Regions from separate parts of the Homo sapiens genome. Here region 2 is linked to region 1. Evidence: fine-mapped expression QTL. Tissue or cell type: whole blood. Region 1 holds a variant in brackets; the other region holds the start of a gene. All regions are shown on one strand. Distances are from middle to middle.

Evidence for each region. PIP is the estimated chance that this variant, and not a neighbour inherited with it, causes the effect.
Region 2: PIGK starts here. The variant in region 1 is fine-mapped to the expression of PIGK in whole blood (INTERVAL, PIP above 0.99).

What each region holds. Positions count from the first base shown.
Region 1 is chr1:77,160,771-77,165,770 of GRCh38, reverse strand. It overlaps PIGK (phosphatidylinositol glycan anchor biosynthesis class K), which reads left to right. Exons shown (of 11, transcript NM_005482.3): 6 at 1,829-1,925; 7 at 4,060-4,177; 8 at 4,366-4,476. Among named protein-coding and RNA genes, the nearest start is that of PIGK, 56 kb to the left of the region's middle. The variant T/C (reference allele first, on the strand shown) is at 2,382.
Region 2 is chr1:77,217,043-77,223,626 of GRCh38, reverse strand. It overlaps PIGK (phosphatidylinositol glycan anchor biosynthesis class K), which reads left to right and starts at 4,197. Exons shown (of 11, transcript NM_005482.3): 1 at 4,197-4,317. The coding sequence starts at 4,225. It overlaps LOC105378808 (a long non-coding RNA gene), which reads right to left and starts at 4,107. Exons shown (of 3, transcript XR_001738109.2): 1 at 3,974-4,107; 2 at 2,634-2,839. RefSeq lists an enhancer at 4,404-4,513.

The sequences.
Region 1 (5,000 bases):
CTCCTTGGCTGGTCTGGACTTTCCTCTGTGCATGCCCATGTTAATTTTTAGTTTCTTTCATAGCATTTAACTTACTATTACTTTATTGTTTGGGTATCTGTTGCCTTCACTGTATTTTGAATTCCAAGATGTCATTGATTATATATTTCTTGCTTTTTTTTTTTTTTATCACCAGTTGCCTGTCTTGTAGTAGTATTCGGTAAATATGGATGTTAATCAAAAGATGTTCTATAAATTTTTTGGAGGGCATTCCATTCAACTGATGATAAAGCAGGTGCAGAATGATTCTTAGATATCACATGTCAACATAGTTAATGACCCCTACTTAGTGGCTTTTCTCTATCGTGTTGCATTTATTTATAACTTTCAAGGCTTAATTTATAAACTTTATAAATTAACTCAATAGAGTTAATGAAGCCAGGAAAAATTTTATTTTACTTTATCTGAAAATTACAAGGAATTTTCAAGCTTTTATGGCAAACAAGATGAAGTGCAGTTTTTTGTAGCTTAGCTTTATTTGATGTACTAAACTAAAGGATTTATTATTATTATTTTTTGTTTGTTTCCTGATTCTGTTGGAACTCTTTCAGGGTAACTGCAGGCTTGGAACAAATTCCAGTAGTTGAAGATAGGATTTGATAAACTATGGCCTGTGAACTGGCTGCCTGTTTTGGAAGTTTTATTGAAACACAGTTGCATCCATTTGGTTTACACAGTTTCTGTGACTGCTTCCATACTACCACAGCAGAGTTCAGTAGTTGTGCTAGAGACAATATGGCTCACAAGCCAAAAATATTTACTACCTGATCTTTTGTAGAAGGTTGCCAGGGTCTGTAAGAGAATAAAAACGTTGATAATTATGATAATATGATAATAATATTTATGGAGGCATAGTATACGTCAGGCAGTATTCTAAATCATTGTGGCTATTAACTCATTTCATTCTCACAGCAGTGCATTGACTTAGGTGCCGATATTCAAGGTTGCTGTATGTGGTTGTGTGGGTTGTATAGTGCACCCAAGAATCTGGCCAGGGTGTTAAGTGGGAACTGAAATCTCGTATGTGCTTACACTTACTAAGCGATCTGCCCTACCACAGGGTTGTATTCTAATGGAAGGGAGGGATACTTTTTTCTCCCACAAAGGCATAGTCAACTAACCACTTGTAAGCCTGCAGGGCTGCATGTATCCAAGAGGAAGGTGAGGAGACTAGTTTTTTTTTTCTACTTTCATGCCCAGTTGAAAGTACCTTTTAAAAACCTGTGCAAAGCAACTGTATAAGTAAGCTAATGATAGTGTTGCAGATACATTTCTCACTTTATGGCTGAGGAAACTGAAGCATAGAAATATTAAATTATTTTCCTAAACTAACATGGCATAGTTACCATTTGAATCCAGGCAACCTGCCTCTAGATTGCATACAAATAGCACAATCTTCTGCTCCACCTCTTGTAGTAAAAATGTGGGACTAGCTAATGTCTTCAGCTTCTTTCTCATCAAAAATGTTTGCCTGGTATTTGAAACATTTTGTGAATGGAAACTCATTTCTGATATAATAATGGAGCCAGTGGAAGAGCATAAATATAGGTTTCTGTAATTGAATATTAGAAACCCTATTAAAGATATTATATCTGCTATTTTATATAGTCTATCATTCTCTTTTTAATTGGCATAGTAGAAAATTCAATTTGTTTGTTTTCATAGTATACATTTTAGAGTATAAAATAACAAGCGATGTCAAAATGTAATGAATGAAGTAAATGTATATATCTAGATATATGCAGTTTGCATTAAAAAATCTATTGATCTTTTTTACTCTTTATACAAGGGCATGGTGGAAATGGTTTCTTAAAATTTCAAGATTCTGAAGAAATTACCAACATAGAACTCGCGGATGCTTTTGAACAAATGTGGCAGAAAAGACGGTAATTAGCAAATTACTTCTTTTCATAAGCTATATTCATACCTAATTTTCACATGGTTCGTAGATTTGTAATTTTTATTTTTTAAGATTTTTAACTTATTTTGACAATTTCTTTGACTCTTTTAAATTTACATTTGTTATTTCCTCTGAACTGGGTTGTTTTTAAAAGAAAAACTGAGAGTTATTCTATAACATGAAATAGTTAACCTTTTAAGATTCCATCTCTTGTTATTTAGCATCTTTTTTAGAGGAAATAAGTGTCCCTCCAACCAAGTTAGCTATTATTATGGAGATTATGAACATCTGTTTATTTTTCAACTTGTACCTATTCTTTCTAGCTCATTCTTTGGCCCCTAATGTTATAGACGTATTTCTTCTATGGAAAAAAAAATCGCTGAAATTATGATTAGCATAAAATTTGTAACAACTCACATTAAGGATGATTGTTAGTAACCCT[T/C]GCTAAGCATCTCTTTAGTTGGAAGCTGTCATGCATATGACTGTAAGTGAAAAAACTTTTAACTTGATTACTTTCAATAAACACTTATAGGCTATCTTCCATTCCTATGGCAGAAAGTGGAATATGATGCTTATTCTGCCTTCAAAGTGTTTACAATCTAATGGAAAAGAGAAATATGTATACAATGATGCTACAAAATAAATACTGTAATGTTAAAATAAAAGCATAAGCAATGTGTGGAAGTGTTGAGGAAGCTTTTACTAGGCACTGATTATGTCTTATTCATAGCTTACAGTTATAGAATGCATACTGGGGGCTGCATACTGTATTTTACATCTATTGTCTCATTTAATTTTACAACTCTATGGGGTAGATACTATTATTATTCCCTTTTTACAAGTGAGTGAACTGAGGCACAGAAAGATTAAATAACTTGTGGAACTTTACACAGCTAGTAGTAACTTGCCAAACTTGACACAGCTAGGATTCATGCCCAAATGGTTCAGTCCTAGAGCTTGCTCTCTTGTTTACTCCACAACCTCTCCTAACTTTGGGTGTTTCTAATGCATAGGAGCCTCCACATATTTTGCCACAGAACAAATGTGTCATATTAATTGTGTCTCCTGTCACTTTCTTCGATGATACTGTGGTTCAAGATTCAATGCTTTGTTTTCTAGGTTCCATGTTAGCTGTTTACCTAGACCCAGTGTCTGAGAAAAACTTCCCAGAAAATATGTCTCCTCTCTACTTTAACTTTTGCCAGCTAGCCAGCTTATTGTGCAATGGATACCTGATTATATTATTCTTTCATTAAAACAACAACAAAAACAAAAACCTTTCATGGTTTCTCCAAACTTATAGGATAAGATCCAGACTTCATATGGTATCCTTTACAAATTGAACCTATTCTACCTTTTTGAAACCAATTTCCCTCCATTCTCCCAAATTTACTTTAAATCCTAGCTACACAGATCTGTTCCCAAGCACTTATACTTTTTTACATTATGTGCTTTTCTCTCTGCTGGAATGTCATCTTCTTTTCTCTGTAAAACAAAATAACATCCCTCATTGTCCGTATTGGGCATCACCTTTCTCTGATCTGCTTTTCTTTGCAGTTCCTCCTTAGTCCTTTCTCAGTGTTCATTCAACACTTTGATTTTGTTAGACTCTAGGCTATATGAGGGCAGGGACTATTGCATCTCCAGCATAATATCAGGCACATTGTAGGCACTCAATATATATTTATAGTACTCATCACGTTCCAATGTAGTTGTATGTTTGTCTGTGTTCCACTTAGAGTTTATGCTCTTTGAGTATAGTTACTAAGTCATACTTCTTTTTCTGAACCTAGCTCAATTTCTATGACAGCATGGGTGCCAAATAAGTGCTTGTTGAATGGAATATTCATTTAGATTCTGAATTATATGGCATAGACAAGGAAGAGGGAAAAGAGCTGGGGCAGCCACCTTGGGCACAATAAGACTCGCTGTGGTTTCCTTGGACAAATTTATACCTTTAACTTTTCTGAGGTCAAATTTCTGTTGGGAATTCTGCTGAAAACTTTTAGCTAATGAAATGACTAAGATATGATTTAAACATCTTACAAAAGTATTGTAGAAATATTAGTGTATGATTTACAGCATGATCCTTGTCAAAGATGTTATCATTTTTCTTTCAGCTACAATGAGCTACTGTTTATTATTGATACTTGCCAAGGAGCATCCATGTATGAACGATTTTATTCTCCTAACATAATGGCTCTAGCTAGTAGTCAAGTGGGAGAAGATTCACTCTCGGTATGTGCATTTTCCCCATTTGTAAACTGTGTCTTTGGAATGTGCAGCTATTTCTGAAACCAATTAAATGCTTTATGAATGTATCTGTTCTTTCTTAGACTAATACATTAGAAGGAAATTTTGGTTACATTTAAAACATTTTGTTATAATGATACTGTTAGAAATACTTTTTTTCCCCCTTTCCATAGCATCAACCTGATCCTGCAATTGGAGTCCATCTTATGGATAGATACACATTTTATGTCTTGGAATTTTTGGAAGAAATTAACCCAGCTAGCCAAACTAATATGAATGACCTTGTAAGTATTCACTTGATTTGATTATAGCACATAGGTATGCTAACCTTAATGTGAAAAGAAGTGTATTATTCCCTGCACTCCTAGAGGATCTTGTTTTATGTGTTGAATTATAGCTTTTAAAACTATTTGATATCTACCTTTTACCTGTATATTAGTATTTCTCTGTCTCTCTACAAGAGGCCTGATGTTTTCCTTTATTTACTCATTTTCTTTTCCTTACCAGAAATGTACTTTTTTTAGATTCAACTTTTGAAATTCTACATATTCTTCAGGGGCCACCTCAGATTGTGTCTCCTTCAGGAAGTCTCCCCGAATTCTTCCCTGTGGGAATTTCTTGTTTTTTTTCAGAGCCTCCATAGACCTTTATTTCTCCTTGGTAACATTTACCACAGTCTTTTATTGACCTTACTAATTGAATGTAAGTCTTTCTCACTGAATGGGAAACTCCTGGAAAAGAGAGACCTTTTCTTACATATTTTTGTGGGCCCTACAATTTATAGTATAGTCATTTGACAAGGCTTGTT
Region 2 (6,584 bases), 57 kb before region 1:
GCTCCCATAATCCCCATGTGTCAATGGTAGGACCCGGTGGGAAGTAATTTAATCATGGGGGCAAGTTTTTCCCCTGCTGGTCTCATGATAGTGAATAAATCTCAGGAAATCTGATGGTTTCATAAAGGGCAGTTCCTCCGCACATGCTCTCTCTCTTGCCTTGCTGCCAGGTAAGATGTGTCTTTGCTCCTCCTTTGCCTTCTGTCACGATTGTGAGGCCTCCCCAGCCATGTGGAACTGTGAGTCCACTGAACCTCTTTTTCTTTATAAATTACCCAGTCTTGGCTATTTCTTCACAGTAGTATGAAAATGGACTAATACAGTAAATTGGAACTGAGGTAGTGGGGCTCTGCTATAAGGTTAACAGAAAATGTTGAAGCAACTTTGGAACAGGGTAACAGGCAGAGGTTGGAACAGTTTGGAGGGCTCAGAAGAAGACAGGAAAATGTGGGAAACTCTGGAACTTCCTAGAGACTTGGAGGGCTCAGAAGACAGAAAGATGTAGGAAAGTTTGGAACTTCCTAGAGACTTGTTGAATGGCTTTGATCAGAAGGCTAATAGGGATACGGACAAAGAAGTCCAGGCTGAGGTGGTCTCAGATGGAGATGAGGAACTTGTTGGGAAATGGAATAAAGGTCACTCTTGCTATGCTTTAGCAAAGAGACTGGTGGCATTTTGCCCCTGCCCTAGTTATCTGTGGAACTTTGAACTTTAGAGAGATGATTTAGGGTACCTGAGGGAAGAAATTTCTAAGTGGCAAAGCGTTCAAGAGGAAGCAGAGCATAAAAGGAAAACTTGCAGCCTGATGACGTGATAGAAAAGAAAAACCCATTTTTTGCGGAGAAATTCAAGCCTGCTGCAGAAATTTGCATAAGTAACAAGAAGCCACATGTTAATTACCACGACAATGGGAAAAATGTCTCCAGGGCATGTAAGAGGTCTTCCTGGAAGTCCCTCTCATCACAAGCCAGGAGGCCAAGGAGGAAAAATGGGTTTATGGGCTGGGCCCAGGGCCTTGCTGCTTTGTGCAGTCTCAGGCTGCTCACATGTGATATTGGGACTGTGGGTGCACGGAAGTCAAGAATTGAGGTTTGGGAACCCTGCCTAGATTTCAGAGGATGTATGGAAACACCCGGATGTTCAGGCAGAGGTGTGCTGCAGGGGCAGGGCCCTCATGCACGACCTCTGCTAAGGCAGAAGGGCAATGCAGAAGGGAAATGTGGGGTGGGATCCCCCACACAGAGTCCCCACTGGGGCAGTGCCTAGTGGAGCTGTGAGAAGAGGGCCACCATCCTCCAGACCCCAGGATGGTAGATCCACCAACAGCTTGCAGCATATGCCTGGGAAAGCCAGAGACACTCAATGCCAGCCTGTTAAAGCAGCTGGGAAGGAGGCTGTATCTTGCAAAGCCACAGGGGCAGAGCTGCCCAAGACCATGGCAACCTACCTCTTGTATCAACGTGAACTGGATGTGAGACACGGAGTCAAAGCAGATCATTTTGGAGCTTTAAGATTTGACTGCCCTGCTGGATTTTGGACTTGCATGGGCCCTGTAGTCCCTTCATTTTGGCCTATTTCTCCCATTTGGAATGGGTGTATTTACCCAATGCTTGTACCCCCATTGTATTTAGGAAGTAACTTAACTTGCTTATGATTTTACAAGCTCATAGGCAGAAGGGACTTGCCTTGTCTCAGATGAGACTTTGGACTGTAGACTTTTGAGTTAATGCTGAAATGAGTTAAGACTTTGGGGGACTGCTGGTAAGGCATGATTGCTTTTGAAATGTGAGGACAGGAGATTTTGGAGGGGCCAGGGTGGAATGATATGGTTTGGCTGTGTCCCAACCCAAATCTCATCTTGAATTGTAGCTCCCATAATCCCCAAGTGTCAAGGGAGGGACCTGATGGGAAGTAATTTAATTATGGGATCAGTTACCCTCATGTTGTCATGGTAGTGAGTTCTCACGAGCTCTGATGGTTTTATTTATCTATCTATTTATTTATTTTTATTTTATTTCATTTTATTTTTTGAGACAAAGTCTGGCTCTGTTGCCCAGGCTGGAGTACAGTAGCGTGATCTTGGCTCACTGCAACCTCTGCCTCCCAGGTTCAAGCGATTCTCCTGCCTCAGCCTCCCTAGTAGCTGGTATTACAGGCATGTGCCCCCACACTGAGCTAATTTTGAAACATGGGGTTTTGCCATGTTGGCCAGGCTGGTCTTGAATGCCTGACCTCAGATGATCTGCCTGCCTCGGCCTCCCAAAGTGCTAGGATTACAGGTGTGAGCCACTGCACCTGGCCTCTGATGGTTTTATAAAGGGTAGTTCCTCTGCACATGCTCTCTCACCTGCTGCCATGTAAGATGTGCCTTTGCTCCTTCTTCATCTTCTACCATGATTGTGAGGCTTCCCCAGCCATGTGGAACTGTGAGTCCACTAAGCCTTTTTCTTTAGAAATTATGCAGTCTTGGGTATTTCTTCATAGCAGTATGAAAATGGGTTAATACAAGTAAAGTCTCATCAAAGTGTGGGTATGAAGTTACATCTGGTCATGAATTTGAGGCATAATCATTAATCTTGTCAGACATTATCTTATGTACAGGAAGAGGCAAGGGCTAGGATCACCAAACTTACCTTTTGTAAAAATTCAGTGATTCAGGCAAGAGATGTGCAAACCTATTCCCTATCCTGCTTATGGTCTTCAAGGCATTCTTCCACAAGGCTGCTCACAGTCAATGAGTCAGGGGCTTTGTGAAATATTGCTGGCAAAGGAGCAGAATGAGCAAATGGCTTCTTATCTTTGCTACTTTGTTTCATAATCATCAGCATCCAATAGATATCTGTTGAATTAATGAATACATGGAAGATATTCTGGCAGTGTATTTACTTTCTAGGATTCACGTAACGGAAAACCTAAATTTGACTAAATAGCATGAAACCTCTCACAAAGTGCAATAGCAAAAGAAACAAATAAAAGGAAAAGAGAGACAAGAGAATGGGAAAAGCAATAGCATAAAATATGGCAAAGGCTAATGTTACTTATTTATAAATATATTATTCAAATTCATATGCAAAACATAAATATATAAACAAAGAATTTACATCAGAGGACACAGAGATAGTTTAGAAACACAAGAAAGACATCAGATCTTGATAGTAACCAAAGAATTATAAGTATAGTTACCTAGGGGTAACATTTCATACCAAAGAATTTAAAGGAAAAAAAATGGTATGGTTTGGTGTTGTGTATTCTGATAGTGCTGTAAGCTTGTTCATTTTGGAAAGCAACATCATTTATAGTTATTAAAATGTTTTGGAATATTTTGACCCCAAATTCCTAGTTCAGGAAAATTATACAAACAAAATAATTCAACAGATTTAAAAAGCCAAACACACAAAAGATACTCTTTACAATATTATTTTCATAGTAAAACTTAAAAACTTTGCATTGTGCAGCAGAGGGACAATTACTTTGGCTGAGGCATCAATAATGGATGGAATTTTATCTCACCATTAAATGTTAAAATTGTGAGGAAGCAGCGTGGAAACGTTTATGTCATACTAGATGAAATGCATAAATTAAAACTGAACTCACATAATAAAGAGAATGGTGGACCATACATATACACCAGCTGTGTCTCTTCCAGATAGGCTTTAGTTCCATAATTACAGAAGATACTCAAGAAACAAAAACGTAACTAGCTTCCCATGTTAATCCTTTCACCAGGTAGTAGACCCCAAGCCTCTAAATTGCAGCGCCCACCCACATTTTCCATTTATAGTTTATCCAATTAATCATCTTTTTGTGCCAAAACGCTTGTTCTTCCCACCACATCCAGCTTCATATTTTCAAAGAATTGGCAGCACTCGGCAAAATAAATAAATAAATAAATAAATAAATAAATAAAATAAATAAGGGAACAGAGAAATAAGTTTTTAAAGTTTAAGGAGTTACGGGTTTTCCCTCCACTCACCTTTCAATTTTTTTTCTTAAATGTTATACCTATTTTACAACCTCCAAACTGAAAATGCAGTTAAAAATAAAAAGGTCAATATCCTGCGTCTACCTTGTCCCGGACTCTCGAGCTCCACAAAACCGCAGAGTTCTAAAGCCGGACCAGAGGGCCACCTCGAAGAGGCGCGGATGGTGTCGCAAAAACCCGCAGCGCTACTTTACGGCACTGCCTCCGCCCCTTCAGGTGCGGGAAGTCTGAAGCCGGTAAACATGGCCGTCACCGACAGCCTCAGCCGGGCTGCGACTGTCTTGGCAACTGTGTTGCTCTTGTCCTTCGGCAGCGTGGCCGCTAGTCATATCGAGGTAGGAGTCAGGCTCATTTGACCACAGCCGGGAGGCCGGCTGTGAGCCCTCCAGCAGATGTCCGATACACAGTAGCTGAGGGACGCCTCCTGGAGTCAATCAGCCCCTGACCCAGGCTGGGTTTGAGGAGGGTATCACTGGGCACGGGTTAGGACACTGTTGGTCTGTTTCAGCGTTTTAAAACGATGAATTGAAATAATCAAACCCTCGGAGACAGAGGAGGACCTGATCCTTTGCTCCTACATGTGTGCAGTTCTTAGGTGAAATACGAGCAAGAGGCTCGTGAAATGTCAGTGTGCAGCAACTGCTTTCCTACTACTCAACTGCAGCCCTCTGTTTTGATAGGAGTCAGACGGAACTGGAGAGATGAGGGCAATTTTAAGAATCCAGATAATAGAATTTAGTGATAATTAGAACATGGGATAAATATAAGTGTTTATTAAAACTCTCAAGTTTCTGGCTTAGGGGCAACACGTCTGGGTTAAGAAATGGAAGAGAAAAGGGGTGCTTAGTTTTATCCTGGGCTCCTCCAGCTTCCCATTTTTAAACGTGGACACAGGATGTTCTGGTGCTCTATAATGCTTTTACTATTCACCATACTCTGATGATTCCTCAGTCCCGGTCTACAATCTAGATGTCTGGTATCTTTTTCAGGCCTGCATATCCAGCTGACTAAGAATCCGGGATAGTCAGGAGACATTTGAAAATCCGTGTGCAAAGTTTTATCTTCTGCTTATCCTACCTCCTCTTAAAAAGACACTGAAAAACTAAGCACCCCTTTTCTCCTCCATTTCTCAACCAGATGTGCTGCTCCTAAGCTAGAAACCTGAGAGTCTTAATCTCTTTATCCCATATTCTAATTATCACTAAATTTTGTGATCTGAGTTCTTAAAATTGCCCTCACCTCTCCAGTTCCACTGACTTAATTCAGGCTGTGATCACTTCTTGTCTAGACTCTTGCGATTACTTTATCTTGTTTTCCATAGGCCTCCATACTCCCTGAGTTTGGTGCTAGATTCGTCTACACGAAATGTAAGCCTGATCAGGTTATTCTTCTGATGAAATCTTTTAAATATTTATTAATTGCATACAGAATAAAGTCTAAACGTTATGACCTGGTGCTTGCCTACTTTTCCAGTGTTCCATATTGGAACCTCTTCTCCCCACCACCTGGGCACCTTGAGCTTAGACCAGTGGACTCCAAACTTTTTGAATACACACCCTATCAGTTAAAAAAAGATATTGAGCATGAACTTCATATATATTTATGAATTACTGTTAATTTATATATTTGATGTTTATATAGCATAATTTTTAGAGAACATAAATATGAGTAAATAGAAGTTCTGTTTCCCTCCTTTATTCTAACTTTGACTGCTTCATCTTGGATACTATTACTGTTTTTTGTAGTTACATAATTGCTGTGCTTTTTCACATTACAATATTTTATACATTGTGTTTCCTCTGTTCATGTGCTAAGATACAGTAAAGGCATAACCTCTGTAGAACGTTTCCCTATCTCTTACCTTTGCCTTTACTCTTGTAATTTGTACACTTGATACAGCACTCATTTACTATAACCCGTGTATGGTTTGTACTGTTATTCCATCATATCTCACTTAGAGATAGGAGCAACAGTTTCCTAAATGTTTTGCCTTGAGTCGTTGTTTTTTCCTTTCAATCTGTTCTCCAAATTGAAGCCAGAGTAACTTTTAAAAATGCAGTTCCAATCATGTCACCCAGGGACCTTGATGTTGCTCAAAAGATCACCTTAATGTTGCTCTAAACTCTCCACCATGACCCACAAACAAAAACCCTGCATATTTTTTGGGCCCTGACTACACTTCAAATTTTTTCTTTCTCTTTCAAACTTCTAGTTAGGCTAACTTTCTTTCAGTTTCTCAAAACCTTTAAGCTTTTTCTCACATTAGAGCTGTCTCCCCTCTGTCTGGAATTGTATTTCCTCTTTTCTTCATCTTTTGGATTTTAACCCAACAGTCACTTCTTTAGGAAAACTTTCCTGACCAGGTCAGGTCCCTCTGTTGTACTCTTATTATATTGTGTGTCTTTCCTTATCTGTTAAATGTATATCTATCCAATTAGATAGTAACCTATTTGAAGGCAGTACTATGGCTATTTTTGCCCAGCATTGTATTTGGAGCACTCAGGGCAGTGACTGGCATGTTGCCCAATGAGTGTGATGAATTAATGAATGTAATAATTATAGTGTAATGTGTTTGCATGCTCCTCTTTATTGAACTCTGGAT